Linked DNA regions of Homo sapiens. The protein of the gene in region 2 purifies or fractionates together with the protein of the main gene of each other region. This does not show direct contact. Each region holds a gene or a part of one and is shown on either strand. Other genes may lie near its edges.

Region 1 (3,500 bases), on a different chromosome or scaffold from region 2:
CTTTTTCACGTTGCCCATGCTGCAGGAGAACATAAAGACAGCTTGTCTGAGGCAACATACAATCCACCAAAGTCACCTGCTTGTCTGTCTCCACTCCGTCTCTACACTGCAGAAGTGCTAGGTCTTGATTCTGTTTATTGTACTGGAAGAACACATTCTCTACCACGTGGATAATTTGCATGTAAAAGAAGACTGGGATATAGAGGCTGGAGACGACATCAGGGTCTCCTGAACACTGCCGCCACCCCCCCGCCCCGCCCCACACAAATACATCCCAGGACACTGGGCATCTGGGATAAATCTCTATTGAGCATCTAGCATAGGGCCCATCACCCAGTAGACAGTCACTAAATAGTTGTTGAATAAGTGTTCCTGTTTAACACATTTTCTACAACCATGGAGACCTCCACAACTGATGTAGGACAAAATGTTTCTGCTTTGAACTCTAGCCTTTTGGTCCAGTGGGATTTATGAAAAGTGCCATCTCTATAGCTGAGGATGAAGAATGGAAGAGATTACGATCATTGCTGTCTCCAACCTTCACCAGTGGAAAACTCAAGGAGGTATGAAAATAACATGAGTTTTAATAAGAAACTTAAAGAATGAATCTGGTGGGGACAGGTATAAAATAAGATCACAGTCCCTTTCCAAGGGGTAGTCCACTGAATTTGAGCTGCCTAAAAATGGTCTTTTATCTTTATGTACAGAAAACACATCACAAAATTCATTATAAAATGTCACTTACTGCTCCATGCTGGGGAAAGCCATGTCCTTCTGGGACTAGAGTCTGCACATTTAACTATGGGTGGTGTTGTGTTTTGTGCTTAGATGGTCCCTATCATTGCCCAGTATGGAGATGTGTTGGTGAGAAATCTGAGGCGGGAAGCAGAGACAGGCAAGCCTGTCACCTTGAAAGAGTAAGTAGAAGCGCAGCCATGGGGTTCTGAGCTGTCATGAACCCCTCCAGCTGCCTGCCATGGAGCTGATATTCCTGCTGTTGGGTTATTCCAGTGACCAGACAAAAGGAGGGCTGTGGTAATGCAACTTCAATGGGTCTCCCAAGATGGGGCAGCTCCGATGAGGAGGTGGGGCAGCTGGAGGAAAAGGATCTTCTCCCCTGTGCACAGGGGCCAGGGTTTACATATCCATTAAATTGTCACCTTGGATATTCTAGAAGACTAAATATATCCTTTAGGGGGAAAAAGTGTGATTGTACCAAAGTTTTAAGCATGGAGTGTATGGGATGGTGGAAGGGGAAGGCACTTGGTATCTGTTGGTTGGCAGTGAGTAGGTTGGGAGAGTTATAATGGAGAACTTAGAATAACTTTGATCATTTCATGTTTTTTTCTGAGGATATCAGTAGAATACTAAATATTAAAATTCCTACCATTTCTTTTTCCTCCAGTCTCAAAGAGAGAGGGTGGTAAAAACACTATAGGTAGGGCAAGCCTATTATTTGCTATCTACACTTATGCAGTAAAAACAGGTGTAATCTGAGTTTGTCCTGGGCAGACCAGGGATATGTGGTCACTCACTATAGAAATTTCCAAATCAAATTTTGAGAGATTTTTTTTTAACCAGGACATTATTGGTCATTATATTTTACAAAAATAATTCTGCTGTCAGGGCAACCTCAGCTCACCACAGCTGGGGATAGTGGAATTTTCCAAAGCTTGAGCAGGGAGTATAGAGAATAAGGATGATATTTCTAGGAGCTCAGAACAGGGTACTGTTGCTTTGTAAAGTGCTGAAGAGGAATCGGCTCTGGGCATAGAGTCTGCAGTCAGGCAATATCACCTGTCTTGAGCCCCTTAGGAAGAGTTAATTATTCTACTCTTGTTCTGCTGAAGCACAGTGCTTACCCATCTTGTATCATCCACAATCAATACATGCTACTGTAGTTGTCTGATAGTGGGTCTCTGTCTTCCTATGATGGGCTCCTTGATCTCAGAGGTAGGTCTAATTCAGTTCAGTGTCTCCATCACACCCAGCGTAGGGCCAGCTGCATCACTGGCACCTGATAACACCTTCTGATGGAGTGTGATAGAAGGTGATCTAGTAGATCTGAAAGTCTGTGGCTGTTTGTCTGTCTTGACTGGACATGTGGGTTTCCTGTTGCATGCATAGAGGAAGGATGGTAAAAAGGTGCTGATTTTAATTTTCCACATCTTTCTCCACTCAGCGTCTTTGGGGCCTACAGCATGGATGTGATCACTAGCACATCATTTGGAGTGAACATCGACTCTCTCAACAATCCACAAGACCCCTTTGTGGAAAACACCAAGAAGCTTTTAAGATTTGATTTTTTGGATCCATTCTTTCTCTCAATAAGTATGTGGACTACTATTTCCTTTTATTTATCTTGCTCTCTTAAAAATAACTGCTTTATTGAGATATAAATCACCATGTAATTCATCCACTTAAAATATACAGTTCAGTGATTTGTAGTACATTTGAAGATATGTGTGACCATCATCATTTTAAACTTTAAAACTTTTTTTGTCAATCTAGAGACCTCATACATTTTTAGCTATCAGCCCCCTGTCACAAACCCTGTCATCATATGCAACCACTAATCAACTTTCTGCTTCTATGGATTTGCCTATTCTGGACACTTCATAGAAATGATATTAATTCATCAGGGTTTTTTATTCTCTAGTTCATGAATTTGTACTTTAGTCTGTATCATTTTCTTTCTTCTGCTGGCTTCAGGCTTAGTTTGCCCTTCTTCGTTTACTATGTTGTGGCATGAACATAGATTACTGATTTGTGATTTTTTTGTTCCTCTAAATTTAGACATTACAGCTGTAACTTTCCCTCTGAGCACTTCCTTTGCTAAATCCCATGAGATTGTGGTCTATCACATCTTAGTTTTTGTTCACCTCAAAACAGTTTCTATTTGCCCTTTTGGTTTCTACTTTGACTCATTGGTTACTTAAATGTTTATTATTTAACTTCCACATATGTGTGAGTTTCTCAATTTTCTTTCCCTTATTGATTTTATCTTTATTCCATGATAGGTGACAGAGATATGCTGTGTTATTTCTATCTTGACTACCTACTATTTCTTGAACAGCAAGATTAATTTTGAGCTTCAGATTATGATTTGGGTTATTCTAGGAGACTGTAGTCCAATAGATAAAGGCAAAGAGATTAGGGCATTGAATTTTGTTCCTTTTATCCTTCAAAAGATGCACAAGGGGCTGCTGATCTCACTGCTGTAGCGGTGCTCCTTATGCATAGACCTGCCCTTGCTCAGCCACTGGCCTGAAAGAGGGGCAAAAGTCATAGAAGGAATGGCTTCCAGTTGAGAACCTTGATGTCTTTTACTCTTCTGGTTGGTAGAGAAAACTAGAATTGCTCCAGGTAAATTTTGCACATTCACAATGAATTTCTTTTTCTGTTTTTGTTTTGTTTTTCCTACAGCAGTCTTTCCATTCCTCATCCCAATTCTTGAAGTATTAAATATCTGTGTGTTTCCAAGAGAAGTTACAAATTTT
Region 2 (4,241 bases):
AGGCACAGAAAGACAAATACCACATGTTCTCATTTATATGTGGAGCTAAAAAAGTGGGTCTCATGGAGGTAGAGAGTTCATTGGTAATTACCAGAAGGTGGAAAGGGTAAGTAGGGAAGGGGGGGTGAAAATGGTTGGTTAAAATTTAAAAAAGAAAAAGAAAAAAGAAATAAAATTTGTAATACTCCAAAAACTTTGATAGAAAAGAGAAAAACATCTAAAGGGCCAATAAAGCACGTTGATCAAAAAAAAAAGAAGAAGAAGAAGGCCGGGCGCGGTAGCTCACGCCTGTAATCCCAGCACTTTGGGAGGCTGGGGTGGGCGGACCACGAGGTCAAGAGATTGAGACCATCCTGGCCAACGTGGTGAAACCCCGCCTCTACTAAAAATGCAAAAATTAGCTGGGAATGGTGGCACATGCCTATAGTCCCAGCTACTCAGGAGGCTGAGGCAGGAGAATCGCTTGAACCCAGGAGGTGGAGGTTGCAGTGGGCTGAGATCGCACCACTGCACTCCAGCCTGATGACAGAGTGAGACTCTGTCTCAAAAAAAAAAAAAAGAAAAGAAAAGGGTTGGTTAATGGGCACAAAAACACCATTAGATAGAATGAGTAAGTCCAAAGTGCGATAGCACAGTAGGGTGACTATGGTTAACAAGAATGTATACTGCAGTTCAAAATAGCTAGAAATGAAGAATGGGAATGTTCCCAACATAAGGAAGGAATAAATGTTCAAGGTGATGGATATCTCAATTACCCTGATTTGATCATCGCACATTGTATACGTGTATCAAAATATCACATGAACCCCCCAAATGTGTACAACTATATTATGTCCCAATTAAAAGAATCCTGACATTCTATGTTTTTATTTCATGCCCCAGAATCCCTGGAACCATTTCAGTTATCCCCATCCCCTCACCCTTGCCTTTTCACAGTGGCTACTGCCAACTGTTCAAATTGTTAACAGAGAAATCAGCAGGTGTAAAGAAGAGAGGTAAGGGTCTTTGGGACCTGTTTGAGGCTTTCTCTCTGATAAAAAAGGAACTGGAAAAGAAAATTGAGGCATAAAAGATAGAGGGAGTTGCCTGAAGCCCTTCAAAGTTGTAAATATTTACATTGAAATTTAAAACTCACAGATTTTTATTTTCCAAAGTAACTCTGGGCCCTTTTCCTACATGTCAGGAGGGCATCTGTAAACACTTGTCTTAGGTCAGAGGCCATACCCCTTTTGCTGAAAAGGCCAGTCAGTAAATGTGTAGGCTTTGCAGACCAAATACTTCTGTGGCACATATTCTTCATTGTTAAATTGTTTTAAAACTACAAAAACCATTCTTAGCTCTGGGCCATATAAAAACAGGTCTCAACATAAAAGGAAAAAAAAAAACAAAAAACAGGCCTTTGGGCAGATTGGGCTCACAGGCTGTAGTTCGCTGGTCCCTGGCTCAAGGTCCAGAGACAAAGCATGGGACAGAGTTGGGAAAATGGATTTTAACCTGGACCTGTTCCCTTAGTCAAGCCTTCACCTCTGTTTGAACTGGGACATTTCTAAGGCTCATTCAATGAGTATGTGACTGTCCCAGATTATCCAACTAAGCAAATCTCCTACTCTTGCCAAGCATGAGCCCTGTCTTCATCCGAATGCCTCTGTATCACTTCAGCCTCAGGTCTCCTATGTGTTCCCGCTGCTCCGAGCCGGGTATCACTTCCCCCCACCGTTTCTCCAGGAAATCCTCCAAGGGACAGTCGGCTCAAGGAGCCAAATGAGTGAGGGAGGACAGAGCCTGGAAGAAACAAGGCAGTCCAAAAGAAATAAACCCACCAACCTGAGACAAGTCTTTCCTCTTCTTACAGTTGATACCTCCAATGAAGACCATGTTGGGCATGACCGGCCTAGGATATTCAAGCACAAAGTCATATCTTAACAGCCAAACAGAGACCTTCTGATATAAGGTGATTATATCCACATCTCTCTTGAGGACAGCTGATGCGAGTTCTTCATACTTTGAAAACAGACAATAAAATAGATAGGGCTCCAACAAATTAACAAGGAAGTTGGCCACTCGTTGGGAAAAAGTCATGTGGTCTGAAAACTTTGTGTAGCACCTGGGAATGTAGGACACAGGGTCTGGGCTTCTGCTGAATGTATGCTCCAGGGAACACGGAAAACCCCTGAAGAGGTACACAGATGGTAGGCCCAAATACTCAGCCAGGATCACCCCACAGGGTAAGGCTGGGTCTGTGAAAAGAGCATCAAACTTGCTCTCCTTAAAGAAGTTCAGGGTGTCCCTGTCCTGCAGGAGGCTCTGGCAGTTGATGAAGTACAGGCCAATAACAATCATGTTATTCCTGTACTCTGTCTGAGGAGCAGTTAGGAATGATCGCTCAGCAAAGTGATTGTTTCCAAATGATTGGTAACGGTTCTTCAGCTCTTCTTGGTCATACGGCACTGGATAGATTTTTCTTGTGTAGTATTTGGATTCTTTCAAAAGCAAATTAACTTCAGGCACCACCACTACAATCTCATGACCCCGGTCACTGAGAACCTCAACTATATCCTTCATACTAAGCCAGTGGCTTCCGTCCTGAGGGACCACCAGCAGCTTGTCACCTACAACCATGCCCCAAAGTGCTAAGAAGAAAACCCCTGCAGAAATTCTCTGAAATGAGCGAAGGAGGCAGGCCATCCTGGAAAGAGTTAAAGTAACAACGGTAATAAAGAGTTTTCACTCTCCAAATCACAGGGCTCCTAGGTATTTTCCCTAAACTAACCACTGCTTTTCACAGGTCCTGTCTACCTCTCCCTTGCTCTGAATTTTACCCTTTGATATGTAAGAACCCAAATTAATATTTAACCATTTTAATCACATGGTTAATATGAACCAACTATGGCCGTGTCAGCTTTCACCTGAGCTTCTGGGTGTTTCTCTTCAGCTCCACAAGTCTGCTTCTCCCTCTCTGAAAAGTTATAGCAACACTTTGAAGATGACTTGGAGAGACCCCTGAGGACCCCCTGCCAATTCTCTATCCCGAACTTGCTGGATTCCTCATCATTGACGTTGTCTGTTATGTCCATGATGTGCGGGAATTTTTCTTGCACACGGACCTATTCTCTAACACCAGCTGGGTATCCTACAATTCAATTCCATTCTGAACTGAATTCTGAGTTAGCACGGACCCCACAGGTTAAGGGCTCAGTCCTACAAGACTGCCCTCACTTCAGACACCAATTGCAAGTAGTAGGTCCCCAGGTTACCCACAACTTCTGTCTGACTTGGCAAAAATCAGAGGTTCACACACCCTCTTTCTTGGAGTCAATCATTTGCTAGAATGGCTCACAGAACTGAAGAAAACAGTTTATTTACTAGGTTTGGTTTATTACAAAGGATATTGCAAACAATACGGATGAATAGCCAGAGGAAAAAGTACAAAGAACAAGATATGGGGGTATGGCCATGGAGCCCCATCTGCCATCTCTGGGTGCCCCACCCTCCACACCTTCAGCAACCTGAAAGCTCTCTGAACCCTGCCCTTCTGAGTTTTTATGTAGGCTTCCATACATAGTAGGCATGATTGATTAGATTGTTGCCCATCGGTGATCAAATCAATCTTCAATCTCTCTCTCCTTTCTTCCCTCTAATCGCAAGGGTTTTGTTCCCTGGCAACTAGCCCTCATCCTTAGAGACTTTACATCTCCTTTACATAAACTTAGGTGTGATCGAAAGGGATCTGTTTTGAATAACAAAAGATTCTTTGTTCACGTTTATCGCTCCCACCACTTATGGTTTCAGGAGCTGTGTCCAGGAAACAAAGACAAACATATATTTCTTATTATACATCACAATATAACAACATTCAAACTGTTACTTGCCTTTAGGAAATTAAGATTTGAGAAGTATAAGTCTAGCCAGTACGTGGTGAGAATCCTAGAGCAGGAGTCAGAAAGCCTGGTATCTGCTTCTGGCCCAGCCACCCATCTGCCAGGGGAGTGACTCCTCTCCTGAGCTTCAGGTTTCTCAACTGAGGCCCAGAAAGGGAGGGTCACACTGGCCCTGCCTGCTAACCACACTGCTGAGGGCGGTCCCAGAGCAAGACCTGTGTAGAAACTAGGCTGTCCCAGTGAGAGGTGGTACCTTGAATTACTAGAACAGACTTGCCCAGAGCTAGTCATGCACACCTGGCTGGCACGCGAGTTCCTGTTCCCACCCACAAGTTTGGCACCGGAGGTGTTCTGGGGCCCAGG

Evidence for each region. The genes of interacting proteins can lie anywhere in the genome.
Region 1: the proteins of UGT1A6 (region 2) and CYP3A4 purify together in Homo sapiens (affinity purification with western blotting; one study listed by BioGRID). This does not show direct contact.

What each region holds. Positions count from the first base shown.
Region 1 is NC_000007.14:99,767,185-99,770,684, reverse strand, and holds part of CYP3A4 (cytochrome P450 3A4), read left to right. Parts: intron 1-449; coding exon 450-563; intron 564-828; coding exon 829-917; intron 918-2,182; coding exon 2,183-2,331; intron 2,332-3,426; coding exon 3,427-3,500.
Region 2 is NC_000002.12:233,691,449-233,695,689, reverse strand, and holds the start of UGT1A6 (UDP-glucuronosyltransferase 1A6 isoform 1 precursor), read right to left. Parts: upstream 2,801-4,241; 5' UTR 2,686-2,800; coding exon 1,825-2,685; intron 1-1,824.